Linked DNA regions of Homo sapiens: regions 2, 3 and 4 are each linked to region 1. Evidence: fine-mapped expression QTL. A gene starts in region 1. Each other region holds a variant in brackets. All regions are shown on one strand. Distances are between the middles of the regions. Region 1 holds the start of VCPKMT (valosin containing protein lysine methyltransferase). Region 2 overlaps SOS2 (SOS Ras/Rho guanine nucleotide exchange factor 2). Region 3 overlaps SOS2 (SOS Ras/Rho guanine nucleotide exchange factor 2). Region 4 overlaps SOS2 (SOS Ras/Rho guanine nucleotide exchange factor 2).

The links. PIP is the estimated chance that this variant, and not a neighbour inherited with it, causes the effect.
Region 2: its variant is the best candidate, but not a certain one, in a credible set for the expression of VCPKMT in unexposed skin (GTEx, PIP 0.88).
Region 3: its variant is the best candidate, but not a certain one, in a credible set for the expression of VCPKMT in whole blood (INTERVAL, PIP 0.55).
Region 4: its variant is the best candidate, but not a certain one, in a credible set for the expression of VCPKMT in blood mononuclear cells (TOPMed, PIP 0.54).

Annotation. Positions count from the first base shown.
Region 1 is chr14:50,113,297-50,119,354 of GRCh38, reverse strand. VCPKMT (valosin containing protein lysine methyltransferase) reads left to right here and starts at 2,783. Exons shown (of 6, transcript NM_024558.3): 1 at 2,783-3,068; 2 at 3,176-3,286; 3 at 3,444-3,516; 4 at 4,951-5,070. The coding sequence starts at 2,803. It overlaps SOS2 (SOS Ras/Rho guanine nucleotide exchange factor 2), which reads left to right. Exons shown (of 23, transcript NM_006939.4): 23 at 502-2,225. The coding sequence ends at 1,011. RefSeq lists an enhancer at 2,787-2,846.
Region 2 is chr14:50,179,328-50,185,385 of GRCh38, reverse strand. SOS2 (SOS Ras/Rho guanine nucleotide exchange factor 2) reads left to right here. Exons shown (of 23, transcript NM_006939.4): 6 at 2,780-2,923; 7 at 4,704-4,814. Among named protein-coding and RNA genes, the nearest start is that of SOS2, 49 kb to the left of the region's middle. The variant G/A (reference allele first, on the strand shown) is at 3,016.
Region 3 is chr14:50,148,264-50,154,321 of GRCh38, reverse strand. It overlaps SOS2 (SOS Ras/Rho guanine nucleotide exchange factor 2), which reads left to right. Exons shown (of 23, transcript NM_006939.4): 13 at 1,149-1,252; 14 at 4,092-4,314. Among named protein-coding and RNA genes, the nearest start is that of VCPKMT, 35 kb to the right of the region's middle. The variant AG/G (reference allele first, on the strand shown) is at 3,757.
Region 4 is chr14:50,134,262-50,140,319 of GRCh38, reverse strand. SOS2 (SOS Ras/Rho guanine nucleotide exchange factor 2) reads left to right here. Exons shown (of 23, transcript NM_006939.4): 17 at 261-378; 18 at 1,536-1,708. Among named protein-coding and RNA genes, the nearest start is that of VCPKMT, 21 kb to the right of the region's middle. RefSeq lists an enhancer at 682-1,386. The variant G/C (reference allele first, on the strand shown) is at 3,611.

The DNA.
Region 1 (6,058 bases):
GTTTCTGATTCAGTAGTCTAGGATGGGGCCCAAGAATTTGCTTTTCTAACAAGTTCCCTACTGATGCTGATGTTGTTGGTCTCTGGATCACACTTTGAGATCTACTGCTCTAAGCCTCACTGGAGAAAGTAGCAGTAGATGCCCAGTAAGCAGAAGCTAGACATTAAAGTCCTCTAGACATCATGTCCTTTCATGTCTATAAAGCAATAAATTATTGTCACTTACCTACTATTATAATTAAAATACATAAATTTCTGAAATGTATACACAAAGCAAGATAAAGAGTTAGGACCTAAGACTTAAATTAAAACATCTCATATATAAAAATATTAAACCCAGCCCTGAATTAATCTAGGAGTACTCATAATCTGATAATTAACCCAGATTAGTTTATTTTGAGCCTCTGAATTTAACTTGACAAGTAAGAATTTTTCAGACTTAAAAATTTTTTTTTTTAATTTTTCAGAATAGAGGTATAATTTAATTACTTTTTTTTTTGAGGGAAATATGAAATCTGATGATGATCCTCCTGCTATTCCACCGAGACAGCCTCCTCCTCCAAAGGTAAAACCCAGAGTTCCTGTTCCTACTGGTGCATTTGATGGGCCTCTGCATAGTCCACCTCCGCCACCACCAAGAGATCCTCTTCCTGATACCCCTCCACCAGTTCCCCTTCGGCCTCCAGAACACTTTATAAACTGTCCATTTAATCTTCAGCCACCTCCACTGGGGCATCTTCACAGAGATTCAGACTGGCTCAGAGACATTAGTACGTGTCCAAATTCGCCAAGCACTCCTCCTAGCACACCCTCTCCAAGGGTACCGCGTCGATGCTATGTGCTCAGTTCTAGTCAGAATAATCTTGCTCATCCTCCAGCTCCCCCTGTTCCACCAAGGCAGAATTCAAGCCCTCATCTGCCAAAACTGCCACCAAAGACTTACAAACGGGAGCTTTCGCACCCCCCATTGTACAGACTGCCTTTGCTAGAAAATGCAGAAACTCCCCAATGACCTTAGCCATATGTAGTCATTGACACTGGAATGGTATTTGTAAAGTTTTTTTTTTAATTTATTCAAAAAAAGACATAGTATTTTAGTACTTTTTACAAATAATGCTCTTACAAAAATGCTACTGATCAAATAAGCTTTTAAGAATTGGAAAAATAAAAATACAAAAGTCCTTCACCATTATCCTCAGGTGATCAGTAGCATTGCCTTGTCTTGGATCCTCAGTGCTGCCAAAAGGCCAGTATAAAGAATTTATATTTGCACTGTAAACTCTGCAAAAATATGGTTTAAAGTGACATGATTGCACTGAAAAGGGATAGTGCTTTTGTGAAATTTTTCAAATTTGAGTAATAGATGCCTTTTTAAGGCAGTGAATTTACACAAATATGGGAGGGGTATATGGTGTTACTGATTTTTAAACCTCTTTGACCATCTTCTAGTTTTTACTTCTAGTTTTTACATCTAGGAGAATTGTGAATAACACCAACTGTTCTTAAACTCTTTAATGCCATGTCTTAAATGCCGGTATTTGCTGCTGAAGACAAAAATGAAAAGTAGGATGAAAATAATAGAATGGCACTGTAAGTGTTTATTATTTTGTCAAAATGTAAACAAAGACTACATAACCCAATGATGGAGGGAAAAAGGGCATGTATCTCATTCAGATGTGCCTTTTGTTTTTGCAGACTATGACGTCTTTAGCTAATGAATTGCCTATTGTTATGGAAAACAGTTAATATGCCATGTATGTACAGTTTTGTTTATATTGTATATTTAAAGATACTGCTAATAACCTATATAAATTTAAGTGACTTGAGGCCTATAATACAATCTGCTACTTTACTAATTCATAAATTCAAAAAAAATTCTATGGCATAGGAACCAACTGCCTTGCCTTCAAGACCTAGTAACTTTCTCTATAAATCTCGTGTTAACTGAAATTTTTTTTAAATATATTTTTTAGATTGGTAATATTTAAACCAGCAAATACTTAAAGCTTTATTAAACATTTTAATCAGATAAGTGAGTAAAGCTTTTATTTGCCATTTGGATGCCTTCGTTCAAAGTGATAGAGTGTTTTGCTGATAGTGCTGTAGCAGCAGTTGTAAAGTAGCCAAAAGCCACGTTGTTTATTTACTGGTTTGTGGCCTTTTACTGTGCTTTGTATCAGAGTTCTTAACAAGATTAATAAATCACCCCAGTCTTAATTTTTAAAAGACTTTTAAAATATGTGTTTTCATTATAAGGAACAAAGGGGGAGATTGTTGAGTCCTATAGACACACACACACACACACACAATTTTTTCTTCACTGTTAAATGTGAGCTGCAGGCTTCTAGCAACCACTTTTATGAATTCATACAAAAAACTAGGAGCATACTAGGAACTTGAAAAGGAAGATTGTAAGATTATAGCCATCTTTGGTAGGATCTTGGAAGCTGATTGCATTTAAGCCTTGTAACTACTATGTAAATCAAGTGTCCAACTTGGTAAACTCTGAGGTTGGCTTTGTTTTTTAAAGAGCAGATTATAATAGTTTTGTCTGGGAAAGTGATTTAAACGGCCTCTTCGTTAAGCCAAACGTGTGATTTAGGGTAGAGGGAGGCTGCCAAGCGCGTCGGGTAAGCAGGGGCCCCACGCTCGGCCCCGCCCAGGTAACGCTGCCTTCCGGGCTTTGTTAACTCGCGCGCGCTGCGTCGCCAACTCAGCGGCGGGCAGGGGGCGGAGCCGCAGGGCGGGGCGGTGCGCGTTGATGTGACGTCCCTGCGCGCGCCGCTTTCTGTTGCCGGGCGCAATGGCGGATACGCTGGAGTCCTCGCTGGAGGACCCACTGCGGAGCTTTGTGCGAGTTTTGGAGAAGCGGGATGGTACAGTGCTACGACTACAGCAGTATAGCTCCGGTGGCGTGGGTTGCGTTGTGTGGGACGCTGCCATTGTCCTTTCTAAATACCTGGAAACGCCCGAGTTTTCTGGCGACGGGGCCCACGCGCTGAGCCGGCGGTCGGTGCTGGAGCTGGGTTCGGGCACCGGGGCCGTGGGGCTCATGGCTGCTACCCTCGGGTAAGAGCTGGCGGGCGGGCGGGATGTGGGGGCGCCTTCTTGCTGGGGAAATCCGGATTACAGGCTTTCCCCCCTGTGCCTACACCTCAGTCGACGTTATTTTATAGGGCTGATGTTGTAGTCACCGATCTTGAGGAATTGCAAGACTTGCTGAAGATGAATATTAATATGAACAAGCATCTTGTCACTGGTTCTGTTCAAGCCAAGGTACTGAAATGGTTTGTATGGCCTTTCAGCTTGTTTTAAGATATTGATTTGTAGTTTGTTTTGAATTGCGTTTCATTAAAAGGATGGAAGGGGACTTTCCGGTTCTTTATAAAACAAGAGTATTTTGAATTATTAAAACAATTGAAATATTTGTTTGGCATTTTTAAGGGGGGAAGAAATAGAAGGCTTTCCTTCTCCACCCGACTTCATACTGATGGCCGACTGCATATACTATGAAGAGGTAAGTATCCAGTGAGCGAAGTCTCTTCACTTAGAAGATGAACCTTATTCCATGAATTCTAAAGCACACGTTTCTTCACATTTTAACATCTTTGAATCCGGGATTTGCCTTATAGTTGATGCAGTAAAGAGAAGATAAAAGTCACCAGGGACCATATGTATATACGCTCATCATTATCATACCGACCTGGTGAAGCATGTTGAGAAAAGTGTTATATGCATTTTACTAGAGGCTTCTGTAAAAATTTTAAAGGATTTTGCCAATTGGATGTTATGAAAAGCCAAAATCCTCTCTTTTTCCCTTGGTTGTTCCCACGGAACATGTTAACCATGACATTGAGAATTAAGTTATAAATAATTCATTGTTCTTTTCTTTAAATACCAGTTTGGGCCGGGCGCGGTGGCTCACGCCTGTAATCCCAACACTTGGGAGGTCAAGGCAGGTGGCTCACCTGAGGTCGGGAGTTCGAGACCAGCCTGACCTACATGGCAAAACCCTGTCTCTACTAAAAATACAAAATTAGCCAGGCGTGGTGGTGCATGTCTGTAATCCTAGCTATTTGGGAGTCTGAGGCAGGAGAATCGCTTGAACCTGGGAGGCGGAGGTTGCAGTGAGCCGAAATCATGCCATTGCATTCCAGCCTGGGCAACAAGAGCAAAACTCTGTCTCAAAAAAAAAAAAAAAAAAAAAAAACATCAGTTTGTATAGTGTTGTGGGCATCGATTATTTTAAAAATAATTAGCATTGAACCAAGTTAGGGTCAGATTTAACTTTTGTAGGGAAATCGTTGATTATTTAAATCCCAAATTAGATTAAATAAAATTAAACTTTTAAGAGTAAGGTTGATTCCATTTGTTTCCCATGAGAACTCCAAAATGCAGTCATCTGAATCCTTTTTCTGGAAACCAAAATCAGTACATGGTTTAGTTAACAGGAGCTTACCCAATCATTAGTTACAGAGGGGTTTTTGTTTGTTTGTTTTTGTTTTAAGATAGGGGTCTTGCTCTGTCACACATGTTGTAGTGCAGTGGAGTGATCATAGCTCACTGTAACCTCGAGCTCCTGAGGCTCAAGTAATCCTCCCATTCAGCCTCCTCAATAGCTGGGACTATAGGTGTGCACCAGCATGCTGGCTAATTTTTAAATTTTTTGTAAGGTGTTGCGGGGGGTGGTTTGTCTCTCGCTGTATTCTCCAGGCTGGTCTTCAACTCCTGCTTTCAAGCGATCTTTCCACCTCTGCCTTCCAAAGTGTTGATATTACAGGTGTGAGCCACTGCACCTAGCCTAGAGCTTTAATTACATGTGCTTTGTTGGATTGATTCAAAGATGGATAAATTGTAGGGGAGCTATAAATACCCCTGTACCTCCTCAACCTACTTTTAGAGTAGAAAAATTTTTAAATCAAAAACAAAAAATATATTCTTTTTTAAATAGTCTTTGGAGCCATTGCTGAAAACTCTAAAAGATATCAGCGGATTTGAAACTTGTATTATATGTTGTTATGAACAACGAACAATGGGGAAAAATCCAGAAATTGAGAAAAAATATTTTGAGGTAAGTATTAAGTACTCTATTATCTTTGTAGTGATTTCCCTTCAGGGGGGCTGTATGTGACTCTTCAAGTATATTATGGTAATTTTGGGTGGGGAAAACATGCTGTTTGTGTGAAGCTGAGGAAAGGATCTTCACAGCCCATGATTCTACGAAGCTCCCCTTTTTCATCTTTTCTGATACTTTATTTCATTTCTAATTAGTTGATCTATGGCTACAGAAGAATGTTAATACGGGTGCCACTCCTTTTTAAGAACAGTTTTCAGTGTTTATTAAACATGATGCTGCCTTTGGGGAACATCTCAATGATGTATGTATTACCTTTGGAGAATACGTGATAGAAATGTGCAGGTGATAAGTTGTTTTTGTTTTGAGACAGGGTTTCACCCTGTAGCCCATGCCGGAGTGCAGTGGCACAGTCAGGGCTCACTGCATCCTCAACCTCCTGGGCTCAAGTGATCCTCCTGCCTCAGTGTCACCCCCCCCCCCCCCCGCCCCCAAGTAAGTGGGACTATAGGCATGTACCACCACACCCGGCTAACTTTTTGTATTTTTTTGTAGAGATGGGGTTTTCCCATGTTGCCAAGTGATAAGTTTTTACTTCTGTGTTTTTCTCTACATATTTATGAAACCTCCAACCTAGATACCTGTCTATTTTTAGGGTCTTTTTTTTTGTTTTTTAAACTTTTTGTCTGAAATAGTTAGAAAAGACTTACAGGAAGTTGCAAAATATAGTATATAGGGTTTTATGTATCTGTCACTCTTCTTCCCCTAGTGATCACCCAAACCCTTATATGGGCACAAATCTATCACATTGTGAGTGACTCCTTTTGAGGGTACATCTATATAGGCCTGCAGTTTTGTCTGCTGGAAGGACTACTTTGGTTTAATGAGAAAGCAGGTATATGACTGCCTCAGGTAACAAATACTAAAATGTTTGTTTATTTTCATGTTTTTCTTGAATATGAAAAATGTTCATGAACTTTTGAAA
Region 2 (6,058 bases), 66 kb before region 1:
CAGAACATTTCTGTGACAACGTATGTGAGGATTTTTTCCCCATACACCAAAGTAATTCTCCTGTGTACACCAACTAGGTGTCCTATAATTTAGCTCAATTTTGACATTATTTACCTCTAAATAGTGTCAGATCTCACAGATTAAGGACTCAGTCCCAACACGACTGTCTCACACTTCAGGCGCCAATTGAAAGTCCCAGGTTGTGAACTGTGCTCCGAACTGATCAGTTATAAATTGGAGTTCCCATGACCCCCTCCTTGGGTTCCATTAATTTGGTCGAACAGCTCACAGAAATCAGGGAAACACGTTTACCAGTTTATTATGAAGGACTTTAAAATGATACAGATGAAGAGATGGACAGGGCAAAGTATAGGGGCACAGAGTTTCCAAGCCCTCTCTGGGCAAGCCACCCTCCTAGCACCTCCACAAGGTCTGCAACCAGGAAGCTCATCAAGAGTTTTTATGGAGCTTGATCTCTAGCCTCTCACCCCTGCCCTTTTTTTTTTTTTTTTTTTTTTTTTGGAGACAGGGTCTGGCTCTGTTGCCCAGGCTTAAGTGCAGTGGCACCATCTTGGCTCACCATAACCTCTGCTTCCTGGGCTCAAGCAGATCCTCCAGCTTCAGCCTCCTGAGTAGCTGGGACTACAGGCACATACCACCCCACCCGACTAATTTTGCATTTTTTGTAGAGATGGGGTTTTGCCATGTTTCCCAGGCTCTTTCCCCAATTTTTTAGAGGTCAGTGGGTGGGGCTGAAAGTTGCAACCCTCTGATCCTTTTTCTTTTTCTCATGAGTCAGTTTGGTTTCAAGTAACCCTTCAATCCTCTAATCATCTGGTCTTTTTGGTGACTGGCCCTATCATGAGGTTATCTAGGGGCCCTACTGTAAGTAACCTCATTAGCATAAACTCAGTATTTATCAAAGGTACTCATTATGAATAACAAAAGACATTATTATCACTCAGGATATTCTTAGCGTTTTAGGGGCTCTAAGACAGGAACCAGGGACAAAGACCAAAAATATGTTTCATATTATACCACATGTGGTGGAGCCAGGATCCAAGCTCAGGTCTGTCAGGTTCCAAAGCCCGTGATGTTTCCATTATAAGATGCCAGAGTGAATAATAGTTGGCCATAACCGGGATGGTCAGTCATATGATGTGTTTGTGTTCAGAGGGCTTGAACCTGTCTTATCCTAGATATATGGCTATCTGCCACATATGATGTTTTAGTCAGTGATAAGACTATAAATACCCATATATATGACAGTAATCCTGTAAGATTATACTATATTTTTACTGTACCTTTTCTCTATATAGATATGTTTAGATACACAAATACTTAACATTGTGTTACAGTTACCTACAGTATTCCATACAGTAACATGCTGTACAGGTTTGTAGCCCAGGAGCAACAGGCTATACCTATATGGCCTAAATGTTGTAGTATATCATCTAGCCGTGATATTTGCACAATGACAAAATCGCCTAACAGCGCATTTCTCAGAACATACCCGTCTTTAAGCAGTGAATGGCTGTAATTCACAGACGGGAGCTTGGATGAAATCTGTAATTCCTTCTCAGATCCAGGAGATGGGCCCTAAATTGTGAAACCAGATTGTAACAGGATTAGGAGTTATCTTCATTCTCATCCCAGCTCTTACCATTAATCTATAAGACTATATAGCCTAAGCTATAAGTAAAACCTAGGGCTCTGTAAGACCTTGATCAAGTCTTTTAGCATCTCAGCCAGTTTTAAAACACTCAAATGCCAGAATTCTTTATGTAAAAAGTAGCTTAGAATCATCCACAGTAGGAGGTTTTAGATTTAAAAAAACTATCTAGAATCTATATTTTGTAGTATTTTTATTGTCTGTTATCCAAGAGATTTTTAAAATTCTCTTCCTGTTCATGATTGATTTTTACTGTCTTGGAATATATTAATTTGAGATTCAATGAAGATATACCCTTAACTCTTATATTGTTTCTTTTTTTTTTTGTACAAGCAAGTCTCTTTATTTCCAAAGTACGTTGACCTCTCCAACCCAAGTTAAAAGAATACACAGTATGATTCCATCTTTTAATATATTAACATCAAGATGTACATGTTTGAAAATGGTTGGAATTTTATACTGGAATAATGCATACTAAACTATTAATAGTTTCTACCTCTGAGGGTCATGGGTGTAAGGGGGGCATGAAAGTAAACATTCATATTTTACTCTCTCTGTCTTGTGTTTGAATCTTTTATAATGGGAGTGCATTCACATGTAATAACTTTTATTTTTACAAAGAATGAGTTTTCCCAAGAGCAAAATGCAAAAATTCTGCTATAGCTTGTTGACATTTAATGGAAATATATTGCTTTATATAATATATGAATTGTTCAGAAGTGATAATAGCTTTAATCATGCTCCCAATAAAAGATATGCTAGTTAAAGAAATTCTATAGTTTATTCCATAAATTTAAAAACATGTAGAAAACGAGTACCACCCATAAATTAAATGATGTATTTGGTGCAGGGCAGGTAAGCCCCAAAGTTGGGGCTTAGCTCGGGACAGTTCTTGGCTTTGTCTAAGAAAGAAGTCAAAGGCATGACAATGGTAGGAACCTCTGCTGAAGCGGCAGCGTACAGCAGCAGCAAAAGTACTGTTTCTTGTGGAGCAGGGCTATTCCATAGGCAGTCTGCCTCGAGTAGCCTATATTGCTCTTTATATTTAGTAATTTTTTAGCAGAATTCTCAATCTCACATTTCTTAACCTTCCTTCTCTTTTTTCAGGATATCGAAAAGATTTTTAGTAACATTTCAGATATACATGAATTGACTGTGAAACTTTTAGGTTTGATTGAAGACACAGTTGAAATGACTGATGAAAGCAGTCCTCATCCCTTAGCTGGCAGCTGTTTTGAAGATTTGGCAGAAGTAAGTTTACAAAACTACTTATATTCTCATTAAAGCCCTAAATGCTGTAGTAAGAAACTTAGAGATGAGTCTTGGCAACATAGTGAGACCCC[G/A]TTTCCATAAAAAAGTAAAATAATTATCCAGGCATGGTAGTGCCCATCTGTGGTCCCAGTGACTCAGGAGGCTGAGGTAGGAAGCCTGGGAGATCAAGCCCATGATTGTGTCACTGCACTCCATCCTGGGCGACAGAGTGAGACCCTGTCTCCAAAAAACAAAATTTTTTTGTAAGATATTCTTTATGAAAATTAGAAGATACCACTGGCCATTATAAAAAGATATTTAAGATTTAACTGATAACAAACTAAAATCACATTGCCTATATAGTGACACTTTCTTTATAGTGTGTTTATGGCAATATTTATAGTGAAAGTTTATATACTAGAGTAGTATATAAACTAGAGTAGTAACATTTAGGTTTTTTTTTTTTTTTTAGTGGTAAGTATATTCAAGATGAAGGAAGATACATTTTATTGACCATAGCTCTTTACCTTCTATGGATTTTAAACTTAAAGTTGGAAAGAAGCTTTATATTATTTTAATGTTTTCCAAAGTAAAAATCATTTTATCTTTTAAATGACTATAAAAATAATGTAGCTCATTGTAAAAATATTCAGAAAAATAGATATATAAATTAGATGAAAGTCACTTTATTTTATAACACCCAGAGATAACTTATCCTTATATATTTCTGTGCATACATACGAATGTATGTGTGTTTGCAAAAATAGGATCCCACTATTTTATAACTTACTGTTTTTACTCTGTATATCATAAACATTGTCCATGTTAATGTATATACTTCAACACAATTTTTAAGTATAAATAATGTGATGTTATATGGAGACACCATAACATATTTTAACTATCTATTATCCATAGGTTGTAGAGTTTTTTCCTTTTTTTTTTTGTTATTGTAAACAACACTGCAACAAACATATTTGCACTATGCCTTGATATTCTAATCATTTTTTTTTTTGACATGGAGTCTCCCTCTGTCACCCATTCTAGAGTGCAATGGCACGATCTCGTCTTACTGCAACCTCTGCCTCTCAGGTTCAAGCCATTCTCCTGCCTCAGCCTCCTGAGTAGCTGGGATTACAGGCGCCTGCCACCACGCCCAGCTAATTTTTTGTATTTTTAGTAGAGACGGTGTTCCTCTCTGTTGGCTAGGCTGGCCTCGAACTCCTGACCTCATGATCCGTCCGCCTCGGCCTCCCAAAGTGCTGGGATTATAGGCATGAGCCACCGCGCCCAGTCATATATTCTAATCATTTTTAAGGATATATTCCTGGAAGTGGAATTGTAGTGCTAAAGACTAGATACATTTTTAGAACTTGGAAACACTTTGCCACGTTCACTTCCAGCTAAGTTCCAGTGTATGTAAGCTTCCTTCTTTCTTCACCCTTTCCCTTCACTAACTCGGTATTACCTTATTCTTTTTCTTTTTAATTCTTTTTTTCAAAATTTGTTTTGTTTTCATATCGGTTCTGCAGATATCCCATTAATTTTTGCCAGTCTAATGGGAAAAGAAATCTTTCTTCTTCTCTTCTCTTTTTTCTTTTCATTTCTTTCTTTTCTTTTGAGACAGGGTTTCACTCTGTTGCTCGAGCTGGAATATAGTGGCACAATCATAGCTCACTGTAACCTCGAACTCCTGGGATCAAGTGATAATAATCTGTACCATATTGGTAGAAAATATATTCTTTTAAACCTAATGCTTTTTCTCTTTTTAAAAAAATAGGAGCAAGCATTTGATCCTTATGAAACATTATCACAGGACATTCTTTCACCAGAGTTTCATGAACATTTCAATAAATTGATGGCCAGACCTGCAGTTGCTCTACACTTTCAGGTAAACTTAAATTGAAGGTTTTTTTTTTTTTTTTTTTTAATAAAGCAAATAAATATCTCACTATTTTATCCTTCAAATATTTGTAATTCTGGAATCCTCGTAATCCTTCAAATCTTGTTCATTCTAAACCTGTTTTGGATTATCTTCTGTTTTCTCTCTGGAGTTCTGTCTGTTCTTATTGTAGAAATCTTTTATAGTACAACATCATGAGTACTGAATGACCAGAAGAATTTGGCACATACTAGATCTGGGGTATAAAGATGAATTTGGCTGGGTGCAGTGACTCATGCCTAGAATCCCAGCATTTTGGGAGGCCAAGACAGGTGGATCACTTGAGGTCAGGAGTTTGAGACCAGCCTGGCCAACATGGTGAAACCCTGTCTCGACTAAAATTGCACAAGTTAGCTGGGCGTGGTGGTGAGCTCCTGTAATCCCAGCTACTCAGGAGGCTAAGGCAGGAGAATCACTTGACCCGGAAGGCGGAGGTTGCAGTGAGCCGAGATCGCGCCACTGCACTCCAGCTTGGGTGGAATAGTGAGACTCTGTCTCAAAAAATAAATAGAAAAATAAATAAAAAATAAAGATGAATCTGGAGTGTGATTTCAGGATTATGTTCCCTATAGGAGGAAGATTTGGAGAAATCTTAAAAAGTTGAGATAACCTCAACCTCCTATGTACTCATACTGATTTTTCTATGAGGCCTACAATTTAAAGGAGATAAATACTGTATTGAGGGAGAGTATGCAAGTTAGTTGGTTCAGGAATACACTTAGATAAAATGAAAATAAGTGGAGAGATACAAATAAAATTTTATTTTTACTATCTCAACACTAACAACAAAAGTTATGTTGGCATAGGTAATACTTGGCTAAATATGTAAAACTTCTACATCTAAACTGACTTTTCCAGCCAGACGTGGTGGCTCTTGCCTATAATCCCAGCACTTTGGGAGGCTAAGGTCAGAGGATTGCTTGGACCCAGGTGTTTGAGACCAGCCTGGGCAAAATAGGGAGACCTCATCTCTACAAAATATAAAAACTTAGCCGAGTGTGGTGGCGTGCACCTGTGGCATGCCAGGAGAATTGCTTGAGCCTGGGAGGTCAAGGCTGCAATGAGTCATGATCACGCCACTGCACTCCAGCCTTGGGTACAGAGTGAGACCCAGTCTCAAAAAAAATAAAAATAAAAAATAAACTGGCTTTTACCCCTTGACGTTTGAATATGGTAAAAATCCTTATAGTCCT
Region 3 (6,058 bases), 35 kb before region 1:
GATGTAGTGGTATTTCATTCATACTTATTTTGTGGAGAATCTGTTCAAATCCTCTAATTTTTGTTGAGATACTTGTCTCTTTATTACTGAGTTGTAGGAGTAAATTGGGTAGGACTGAATGCCAGTCCTTTGTCAGATAAACATTTTGCAAATATTTTCTTTCCATGGCTTGCCTACTAGTTTCCTTCCTTCCCTTTCCTTTTCCCTTCTTCCTCTTCCATTTCCCTCCTCTTCCCTCTCCCCTTGTCTTTCCTTTCCTTTCCATTTGCATAGTTGATTAAATCTCTCTTTGCAAGGTTATAGGTAATCATTTTTGTGATACTGTAAAACAAAACAGTTCTATTTTTGTCTTTTGAAATGAAATAAGAGACTGTAGTATATGTGTAGATTACATAGAAATTTGATGATAGGCTGGGTGCAGTGGCTCACGCCTATAATCCCAGCACTTTGGGAGGCTGAGGTGGGCGGATCACCTGAGATCAGGAGTTCGAGACCAGCCTGGCCAACATGGTAAAACGTCGTCTCTACTAAAAGTACAAAAATTAGCCCAGCATGGTGGCGGGCGTCTATAATCCCAGCTACTTGGGAGGCTGAAGTAGGAGAGTCACTTGAACCTGGGAGTTGGAGGTTGTAGTGAGCTGAGATCGCACCATTGCACTCCAGCCTGGGCAACAAGAGCAAAATTCCATCTCAAAAAAAAGAAAGAAATTTGATGATAGCACTTGCATTTAGAACCAGATACAGTACATCTTAGTTGGTTTTCCATTTTAAGTGAAAAAGTACCAAAATTTAAATCTTAAAAATGCTTTTTATGAACTTAAAATAGCTTTTGTAATATAGAGCATAAGTTTTCTACATATGAATAAAGGGTACTTTTCCTTAACATAAATGGGAAGCACAGAAACCACTATTTTTATGCTTATAAATATTTTAAAAGTATACATTTTATTAATAAATAATACACCGTTTGGAGACCTACTCTCCTCTTGTCATTGAAGCATTTAAAGTATTAATTAAATACAGATTAGAGAGTCTTTGAGTATTATGTTGACCCTTGTATGTAAAGCTATTATCGTGGCATTAGAGAAGGAAGAAGTGTAATTGAACACTTATGTTTCACTAAAATGTGTTTCTTTCCATTTTATCAGGATCTTAAATGTATTTCGGCATTGGGTTGAACATCATTTTTATGACTTTGAAAGAGACTTGGAATTGCTTGAAAGACTAGAATCCTTCATTTCAAGTGTAAGAGGTATATTATATAAAGGTTTGATTGAATCTTATATTGAACATGAGTTTATGTTCAAATTTGTGTGACTTTAAGAAACTAAAACATTTCTCTCTCTTTTTTTTTTTTGAAACAGAGCTTTGCTTTGTTGTCCAGGCTGGAGTGCAGTGGTGCCATCTCAGCTCACTGCAACCTCCGCCTCCCAGGTTCAAGTGATTCTTCTGCCTCAGCCTCCCAAGTAGCTGGGACTACAGGCACATGACATCACGCCTGGCTAATTTTTGTATTTTTAGTAGAGATGGTATTTCACCACATTCACCACAAGACCAGCCTGGTGTCTTGAACTCCTGACCTCAGATGATCCACCTGCCTCAGCTTCCCAAAGTGCTGGGATTACAGGCATGAGCCACCATGCCTGGCCAGCATTTTTCATTTTTAAAAAGCTGAAATAACATTTGGAATGTTTTTTATAGACAGCAAGAAACTCACATATGTTTAGACCAATCATCTGAGGTCTCAGAACTTTGCCTTTTCAAGTTTTTGAGGAGAATATTTCTTTTAAAGAAGTCGAAAGTTCTTTTTAATAAATTTAAGCTATTTAATTTTATCTCATTGCAAGGTTGCCATTTCTTCAACTGAATAAAAATATGTGTAATTTTATGTTTTCTTTCTTTAATCTTATTCTTTTAATGATTAACAGCTTTCTTATAATATTTACATCTTCTGGAAATGTTTTTGGTATATTTCTGAAATCTGAAAGAGAGGAGTTTTCTATTTTAAGTTTCAGAATCATAGCCCAAGAAATGAAACCCTAGGCCATGAACATTTAAACAAATGTGTCATCAAATGTATATTATTGAATCAAGAACATTTATGTTTTATCTGACATTATAGGGCATTACAAATACTATAACAAGTGTAACTTATTTCGTGTTCTACTTGTTCTTTAAGGGGAATATTATTTAAAGTTAAGAATGTTATTCCTTTGTTTCTACTTTGAGATGTTTATGATACATTTTTATGTGTGCCTTGAAATTGTCATAATACTACATTTTCAAGTTGTATTCTAGGCCAGTGCAATGGCTCACACCTAGAATATCCCAGCACTTTGGGAGGCAGAGGCGGGCTGATTGCTTGAGCCCAGAAGTTTGAGACCAGTCTGGGCAAAATGGCAAAACCCAGTCTCTACAAAAAATATGAAAATTAGCCAAGCATGGTGGCATGTGCCTGTAGTCCCAGCTACTCGGGAGGCTGAGGTGAAGCGATCACTTTTAAGCCCAGAGCTCGAGGCTGCAGTGACCCGAAATTGCAACACTGCACACAAGCCTGGGCAGAGTGAGACCCTGTCTCAAAATAAACAAAAAACAAAAATTTATATTCTAAATGAGAATACTGGATTAGACACAATCTAAGAAGCTTCTAAAATACACACACACATTAGAATAAATTAAGTAAATGGTTATGTTAATGTCCAAAGTTCTTTTCTATACTAGTTATACTTCAGAATAACCAAATAGTTCATGAGGAAAAGTTTATTTTTGTGGAAGTATTTCAGCTAGTAAGTGAAGAAGGAATGGTAGAATATCACATTTCTCAGGTCCTAGTAAAATAATAAACCTAGGGAATTATCATGACTGGATGGGTACTATCACAAAAAGTTAACTAGACATTATATGCCTCCTGTTAGAAGTATTCTTGGCAAGTATTTGTGTCATAAAATTAATCCTGAATCAGACCAAGTCACTATATCTCTGCTTTACAGAAAATATAGAGGACAGAAAAACATGGCAAATGACAATTTCTTCCACAAAGTGCAAGCAAAAATATGCAATAAAGCAGTAACCTGTAGATTAAAGGAGACTTGAGACACATTGACTCAGTGCAATATGTGCAATCTTGTTCAGATCCCTTTTCAAACTAAATATAAGAAAATATGGCCAGGCACAGTGGCTCATGCCTGTAATCCCAACACTTTGGGAGGCCAAGGCAGGCAGATCACTTGAGCCCAGGAGTTCAAGACCAGCTTGGGCAACATGGATAAACCCTATTTCTACTAAAAATACAAAAATTAGGCCAGGCGCGGTGGCTCACGCCTGTAATCCCAGCACTTTGAGAGGCCAAGGCAGGCAGATCACGAGGTCAGGAGTTCGAGACCAGCCTGGCCAACATGGTGAAACCCTGTCTGTACTAAAAATACAACAAAATTAGCCAAGCATGGTAGTGTGCACCTATAATCCTAGCTACTCAGGAGGCTGAGGCAGGAGAATCGCTTGAACCCGGGAGGTGGAGGTTGCAGTGAGCCGAGATCACGCCATTATTCTCCAGCCTGGGTGACAAAGTGGGACTCCATTTCAAAAAAAATACAAAAATTAGCCAGGCGTGGTGATATGTGCAGTCCCAGCTACTTGGGAGGCTGAGGTGGGAGGATCACTTGAGCCCGCAACATGGAAGTTGCAATAAGTTGAGATTGCGCCACTGCACTCCAACCTGGGCCACAGAGCAAGACCCTGTCTCAAAAAAAAAAAAAA[AG/G]GAAAATAATCAGAGAGAGAAATGTGAACAGTGACAAAATACTTCAAGATAACAATGTATTAAGAAGTTGTCAGTTTTATGTGTGATAATGGTGTTGTGGTTATTACTTTAAAGAGTGTTTTAAAGGTGCTTAAATATGAATGAAATACGATGTCTCGGATTTGTTTCAGAATAACCTAGGAAGTGACGGGATGGCATGAGTAGGGTTAGAGAAAATAAAAATTGGCCATGAGTTGGTAACTGTTGAGGCTGGGTGAAAGTTAAGGATTAAATGAAGATTTGCAGTCATGTCTGTCAAGTAAAAGACATTTTTCTTTATGTGTTCTTTTTCCAGGGAAAGCTATGAAAAAATGGGTAGAGTCAATTGCTAAGATCATCAGGAGGAAGAAGCAAGCTCAGGCAAACGGAGTAAGCCATAATATTACCTTTGAAAGTCCACCTCCACCAATTGAATGGCATATCAGCAAACCAGGACAGTTTGAAACATTTGATCTCATGACACTTCATCCAATAGAAATTGCACGTCAGCTGACACTTTTGGAGTCTGATCTTTACAGGTAGACAATTAATGTTAATGTCTTGCTTTATTTTTAAGAATCTTGAACATTACCTATTTTCAAAACATTTTGCACATTATTCATGAGTGCTTAAAAATACCTCATCTACTCTCATGGGCTTAGAGGAAAGGTCATAGCACAGTTTTTAACTAGTCTGCCCTGCAAGTAAAAGTCTTATGTCTAGACTGGGGACTAGCAATCCATTACAAGAGGAATGGCAGGAAGATTTTCAAGTCCACCACCCCTCTTCAACTCCTAATACCTTCTCACCTTGGTTTAGTTTGAGGTCAGTCAGTCAAGTCAGTTAGTATGGATGCTAGGCCCTTAGCAGCTAAGTGAATAGAATATTGTGTGAGATGGGTTTTCTTTTCTCATTTACAGCTCAGGCTGTTGCGAAGGGTACAGGCCTTGCATGTAACAGCTCTCTGTCGAAAAATGTCACTATCATTATCATTCCATCAAAAACTTTTTCTACACCAACCTCTCTGTTTTCCCCTCCTCCCAATCCTTCCCAGCCACTAATACCTGCAGTTCTACTCTCTACTTCCATGAGTTCATTTTTTTTTTAGTTTTCATATATGAGTGGGAACATGTTATATTTTTCTTTCTGTGTCTGATTTATTTTGCTTAACATAAGGTCCTCCGGGCTCATCCATGTTGCCTTGAACGACAGGCTTTCATTCTTTTTTTATGGCCGAATAGTGTTCCACTGTGTATATATACCACATTTTCTTTATTCATTAATCTGTTGATTCCATATCATAGCTATTGTGAGTAGTATAGAAGCCTCAATTTAAAATATAAATGTGCTTGGCTGGGTATGATGGCTCATGCCTGTAATCCCAGCACTTAGGAGGCCAAGGTGGGCAGATCGCTTGAGACCAGGAGTTCAAGACCAGCCTGAGCAACATGGCAAACTCCGTCATACAAAAACTACAAAAAATAGCCAGGCATGGTGGCTCGTGCCTGTAGTGCCCCTGTAGTCCCAGTTGCCCAGGAGGCTGAGGTGGGAAGGTCACTTAAGGTCGAGGCTGCAGTGAGCCAAGATTGTGCCACTGCACTCCAGCTTGAGTGACAGAGTGAGACCCTATCTCTAAAATAAAAATATTTTCATGGAGTTATCCTGATTAGCAGCCAATTTTTAAATAAAGATTACACAGGGAAAAGCAAGAATATATAAAATTTAGTGCTAATAGGTAATATAGTAAGGTACCTTTACTACATTATGTTTACTTTATGTTCTTTAGAATTTGCCTAGTTTGCACTGGCCATGCCATTCAGAACCAGACTTTTAGCGCACCCACCAGAAGTTGTCAACATCTGACTCAAAATGTTATGTTATATTTTAAGTAATTTAGAATCCAGGTAGCTTTGTTTATGTTGTGGGATTTGTGATACGTAGAAATGAAGGGACTTGTTACTTGAGGTAAAAAAAGCAAATAGTACTGCATCATGTTTTTTCTCACAATGTAATTGTTTTACATGAATGGACATCAGAAAAAAAGCACTTCACTTCATGTGGACCTACTTTCAGGACATAGAAAAATACCTAATACTGACTTCATTTGTAAACTAAATTTTTTTTTTTTTTTTTTTTTGAGATGGTGTCTTGCTCTGTCACCCAGGCTGGAGTGCAGTTGTGCAATCTCGGCTCACTGCAACCTGTGCCTCCCAAGTTCAAGTGATTCTCATGCCTCAACCTCCCGAGTAGCTGGGATTACAGGTGTGTGCCACCATGCCCGGC
Region 4 (6,058 bases), 21 kb before region 1:
AATAACGCACAAGGCATGACGTAGAATTTTTTGTATTGCTTGATCTTCTAATTTATATGAGTAAATTATGGGTTTTATATTTATAGATAAAGAGAGGAGAAATCACTTCAGGTAAGTGTACAAAGGAATACCACTCATCTTTTAATGTAAAAAAATTGTTTTCCAGATAATTTGCAAAATTTTATAAAATTTAAAGGTTTGCATTTATAAAATATGATTGAATTGTAAAAAATTTATACTCAATTTATGTATACTTTAAGGCACTGCAGGAAAGGAAAAGGAAAATTTTGGACGAAGCTGTGGAATTAAGTCAAGATCACTTTAAAAAATACCTAGTAAAACTTAAGTCAATCAATCCACCTTGTGTGCCTTTTTTTGGTAAGTTACTAAATATGGATATATTTTGAGGGTGAGCGTGTGATAGCCAAAAGAGAGCAGTCTTCAGAGGCATGTTATCTTTATTTTATATCTGAGCTCATCTACTTTTATTAGCTCTCTGTATTAATAAATAATAAAACTCTCTATTTTCTATAAAATGAAGACTATAATATCTCATAGGGTTGTTATAAATAAGGATTAAAAATATTTTGTCTGTACTACCTAATAAGTCTAGCACATAGGACGCACTCATGAAATGGTAACTGTTATTTTTATCATAACTATCTATGTCACATCTACAGTGTTTGCTTTCTCTTTAATTTATTAAAAGCTTCTATGTGATTTTTAAATTTAGAATTAAAATATTGTTGTGTATGATTGAAATTGAATGATTTAAATCAAGTTTTGTCAACTTCAACAATTTTGGTATTTTGGGCCAAATAATTCTTTGTTGTGATGGGCTGTCGTGTGCGTAATAGGATCTGTAGCAGCATCCTGGCCTCTATTCATTACACTCCAATAGCACCCTGGAGTTGTGGTAACCAAAAATGTCTCTAGACATTCCTAAATATCCCCTGGGGGACTAAATTGTCCCCAGCTGAGAACCACCAATTTAAATGAATCAGCAATTACGCATGAAAAAGGGACTAAAAACTTTTTTATTGTTCATGAATGAGAAGTAATTATTTTTCTATCTAAATTACAGTCTCTGAAAAAACAGAATTAGTTTATAAGCCTATAGACTTATTAACCAAAATTGGCTTAAAATTAATTTATTAATAATCACCTAAGATACTTGGCATTAAATATTTATAATCAAATATTAAAATATTTGGTCAGAATAGATTTAACACAATTTGCACTTGGTGAAATTAGAGTTTAGAAAAGCTTAATTTGCCATTTCTTAGATTAGCAGCCTTTATTTTTGTACAAGCCAGTAGCTTTTATTTTCTTTTTATTTTAAATTCTTTCTCTTTAAAAAATGCTTAATGGAGAGTTAATGATTGTTTATCAGAGACTTAACATTTTAGTAGTAGAGTTGCTGAATAGTATAGGATGTCTTTCAACTTTACTAGATCAGTTGTTTTCCCAAATAATTGATTAAATAACAAAATTTAAAATAACTTTTCTTTAAATTCTTTTTTTTTTTTTACTAGGAATATATTTAACAAATATTCTGAAGACCGAAGAAGGGAATAATGATTTTTTAAAAAAGAAAGGGAAAGATTTAATCAATTTCAGTAAGAGGAGGAAAGTAGCTGAAATTACTGGAGAAATTCAGCAGTATCAGAATCAGCCTTACTGTTTACGGATAGAACCAGATATGAGGGTAAATATTTTCTTTGCATATCTTTAGAAGAGAACGTGTTAATGGGTACCAAAAAAAAAAAATAGAATGAATAAGACATACTATTGGATCGCACAACAGGGTGACTACAGTCCATAATAATTTAATTGCAGATTTAAAAGTAACTGTAAGAGGCCAGGCACTGTGGCTCACGCCTGTAATCCCAGCACTTTGGGAGGCCAAGGCGGGCGGATCGCTTGAGATCAGGAGTTGGAGACCAGCCTGGGCAGCATGGCGAAACCCCGTCTCTACTAAAAATATAAAAAAAAATTAGCTGGGCATGGTGCTGGGTGCCTGCAGTCCCAGCTACTCAGGAGTCTGAGGTGGGAGAATCACTTGAGCCTAGGAGGGGTAGGTTGCAGTGAGCCGAGATAGCGCCACTGCACTCCAGCCTGGGTGACACAGTAAGACTTCTGTCTCAAAATAATAATAGTAGTAATAACTATAAGTATCGGCTGGGCATGGTGGCTCACGCCTGTAATCACAGCACTTTGGGAGGCTGAGGCGGGAGGACCACTTGAGGTCAAGAATTTGAGACCAGCCTGACCAACATGGTGAAACCCTGTCTCTACTAAAAATACAAAAAATTAGCCGGGCATGGTGGCGGGTGCCTGTAATCCCAGCTACTTGGGAGACTGAAGCAGGAGAATCATTTGAACCCAGGAGGTGGAGGCTGCAGTGAGCCGAGATCATGCCACTGCCTTCCAGCCTGGGTGACAGAGGGAGACTCCGTCTCAAAAAATAAAATAAAAAATATTAACTATAAGAGTATAATTGGATTATTCATAATACAAAGGATAAATGCTTGAGGGAATGGATACCCCACTCTCCATGATGGGATTATTCTACATTACATGCCTGTATCAAAACATCTCTTATACCCTACAAATATATACACCTATTATGTACCCATGAAAATTAAAAATTTTAAAAATTAAAAAAAAATTTTAGATCTTGTGTGACCTGTAAGAAATATCATAATTATTTGTCTTGCTATGAAAATAATAGAAAAAAATTAATCAGTAGATAGCATGTTAAACATTAGACATTCTACACTATCTGCAGTTGTTAATATTGTTACTAAGTACTTTCTTTTGAAAGTATTGCTTCTTTGTGTAGTTGGTTCAAGCTACACCATAAAAAGTGAATGACAAAGTAGAATGATGTCCATGCAGTAAAAAGAAAATTCATTTCTAGATTTGATAGCCATTTTAGATAATGTTACATGTAGCAAAATAACGTTATATAATTCATAAGAACAGTGTGTTTAAATAGGAAAAGGGTCAGCAAAGTGGTATATGTATGCCTGGCAGAAGATGATTTTTCTAACATCCTGTCGATTGATGTTCTATTTTGAGCAATAGTGTGTAATATTGATACTATAGTACTATAAAATATGAAACAACCTTCTAAATTAAACTATGATATTATGTTTATGCTAAATGAATGTTATTATATTATACTTGAACTTGGGAACATATTATAACTATCAACCAGAATAAGTTTACGTGTCATATTAAAAACTGCGCTAAACTTTTTAGACATAATCTGCATGCAAATTGGGCATATTGAGTGAAAATATCCACCATTACTTCCACCCTCCTAAATTATGAGATAGAAACTTCTTTGTTCCCGGTTCAAAACAAAGTACCCTAAAGTCCTAAGAAAAAGACCACCTAAAGCATACCATTTATAAAAATGATAGGTCGGGCACAGTGGCTAATGCCTGTAAATCCAGCACTTTGAGAGGCTGAGGTGGGTGGATCACCTGAGGTCAGGAGTTCAAGACCAGCCTGGCCAACGTGGTGAAACTCTGTCTCCACTAAAAATACAAAAATTCGCTGGGTGTGGTGGCACGTGCTTGTAATCCCAGCTACTCAGGAG[G/C]CTGAGGTGGGAGGATCGCTTGGACCCAGAAGGCAAATGTTGCAGAGAACTGAGATAGAGCCACTGCACTCTAGCCTAGGTGACAGAGCGAGACTGCATCTCAAAAAAAAAAAAAAAAGATACTTGCTCTTAAAAAAAATAAAGGTGGTAACCTACTGATGGTGACCTATTTCATCCCCTCTCACCATTGAACCCGCCCTCTGTGATGTGGGGCTTCGGAGAGCTAAGGAAATATGGTCCCCACAGGAATAATGTTACACTTTAATTCGGTATGCTTGAAATAGTACTTTTAGTATTTATATCTCAGAACCATACCTGCTAATTGGTGTTTGTGGTGTGGTCTAGGGTTCCTACCACCATTTAAAGCATTTTTGGGAGGAAGTGTCTTCTATATGATTGAGTCAAACAAAATAAATTTAAAATGTAGACAAAGTAGCTATTCACTTTTCAAATCATACTTAAATAAATAGTATTTAAAATAGAGCAAAGGATGAGGAAATCAAGAATACTGCTGTTATAGCTTTCTGAAAGCCTTTAATTACTAGTGGCTAATATTTAATTTAGCTAACCTGAACATAAGAACACATTGTTTCAGTATTGTTAAAAGAGTAATACAATTTTCTTGAAATTGGCAGAATGCCTTAAAAATGGGAAGAATTTTATACTAGAAATTTTAAAGCTCATTTTGCCTACTGCTAAAGCTAAAACCTAGTACCATTTTTATATATGCTTCTAAACCACTTCAAAATTAAATAAAGCTAAATCCAGTAATTTGCTGCTAAGGAATTTTTCTAAGGAAATCATAAAAAATGTACAGAAAAATTTATATATAGGAGTTAATAAAAATAATTATTATAATAGCAAAAAATTAGAAAGTACCTATATGGATAACTAGCTATATGGAGATTATTACATTCTGAAATATCCATCTGATGAAATACTATAGAGTTAAAATTTGTATTTTGTAAAATAAGCAAACTGGCTGGGTGAGGTGGCTCATACCTGTAATCCCAGCACTTTGGAAGGCTGAGTGAGACTCCATCTCAAAAAAAAAAAAAAAAAAAAAAGCAAACCACATTGAAAAAAGTTAATTGAATATAAACTTCAGAAAGATTAAAATTGATATCCCAGTTTTTCAGGAAAATATATATATAAATTATTAATAATTATATATAAATACATATATACATGCATATATTTACATGCACAGTAAAATCATTGGAAGATAGTCTAATATTTAAATGTAAACAATGATATTTCTGGTTTGTAAGATTACTGTTTCTTTTTCTTTTTTTCTCTTTTTTTGGCAGTGCTAAATCACCTGAATTTTCTACGTTAAAACTTAAATTTAAGCTTAAAATATTTTTTGATAAAGACAAAAATTTTAAACATTTTATTTATTAGGCTTTTTTTAAGAGGAGAGGTCTCACCATATTGCCCTGGCTGGTGTCAAATTCCTGGGCTTAAGCAGTCCCCCGGCCTCAGCCTCCCAAACTGCTAGGATTACAGGTGTGAGCCATCATGGCTTGGCTCAGATAAAAACATTTTTTATACTAGAAGTTAGCACAGATAGGTTTAACTTTATAATCATTCTTTCTTTCTTTCTTTCTTTCTTTCTTTTTTTTTTTTTTTTTTTTTGAGACAGTCTCGCTCTTGTTGCCCAGGCTGGAGTGCAATGGTGTGATCTCGGTTCACCTCAACCTCCGCCTGCCAGGTTCAATTGATTCTCCTGTCTCAGCCTCCTGAGTAGCTGGGATTACAGGCATGCGCCACCACGCCCAGCTAATTTTGTATTTTTAGTAGAGATGGGGTTTCTTCATGTTGGTCAGGCTGGTCTCAAACTCCCGACCTCAGGTGATCCACCCACCTCAGCCTCCCAAAGTGGTGGGATTACAGGCGTGAGCCACCGTGCTCGGCCTATAATCATTCTTGACATTACTTTTAAAGTAATTTAAATGACTACTTTTAAAGTAAAAGGAATTTCCAGAGTAATTATAAATGATCAAGAATGATCTATAAATTGGATTAACAGACCTTAATCTAATTTATCTCCACTTTTTTTCTGATTATCAAAACTTCATTGTGGATTATAACCATAGCTTTGTTCTAAACACTTTTGGTAGCTTACTAGTGATGATCATTTGTTACAATGAGTAGGAGTAAAGTTTCCTAAGGAATAAGTAGTGCTACTGCTGAGCCATTAAAATGATAATAAATGAAAACTCATATTCTTAATAGAACTTTAAGACTAGAATATAACTTCCACAGAAATTATATAATCTTATTCAGAAGTAAAGAGATTGGAATAAGCAACACTTGTGAACTTTTCACATATTGTGGGCTCTTAATGTGTTATTTTTTAGCATTAAATAAGTAATTTTCAGCAAAAAATTTTAATGAGATCTTATTTTAATAAGATCTAAAATATATACTTACTATATATGCACT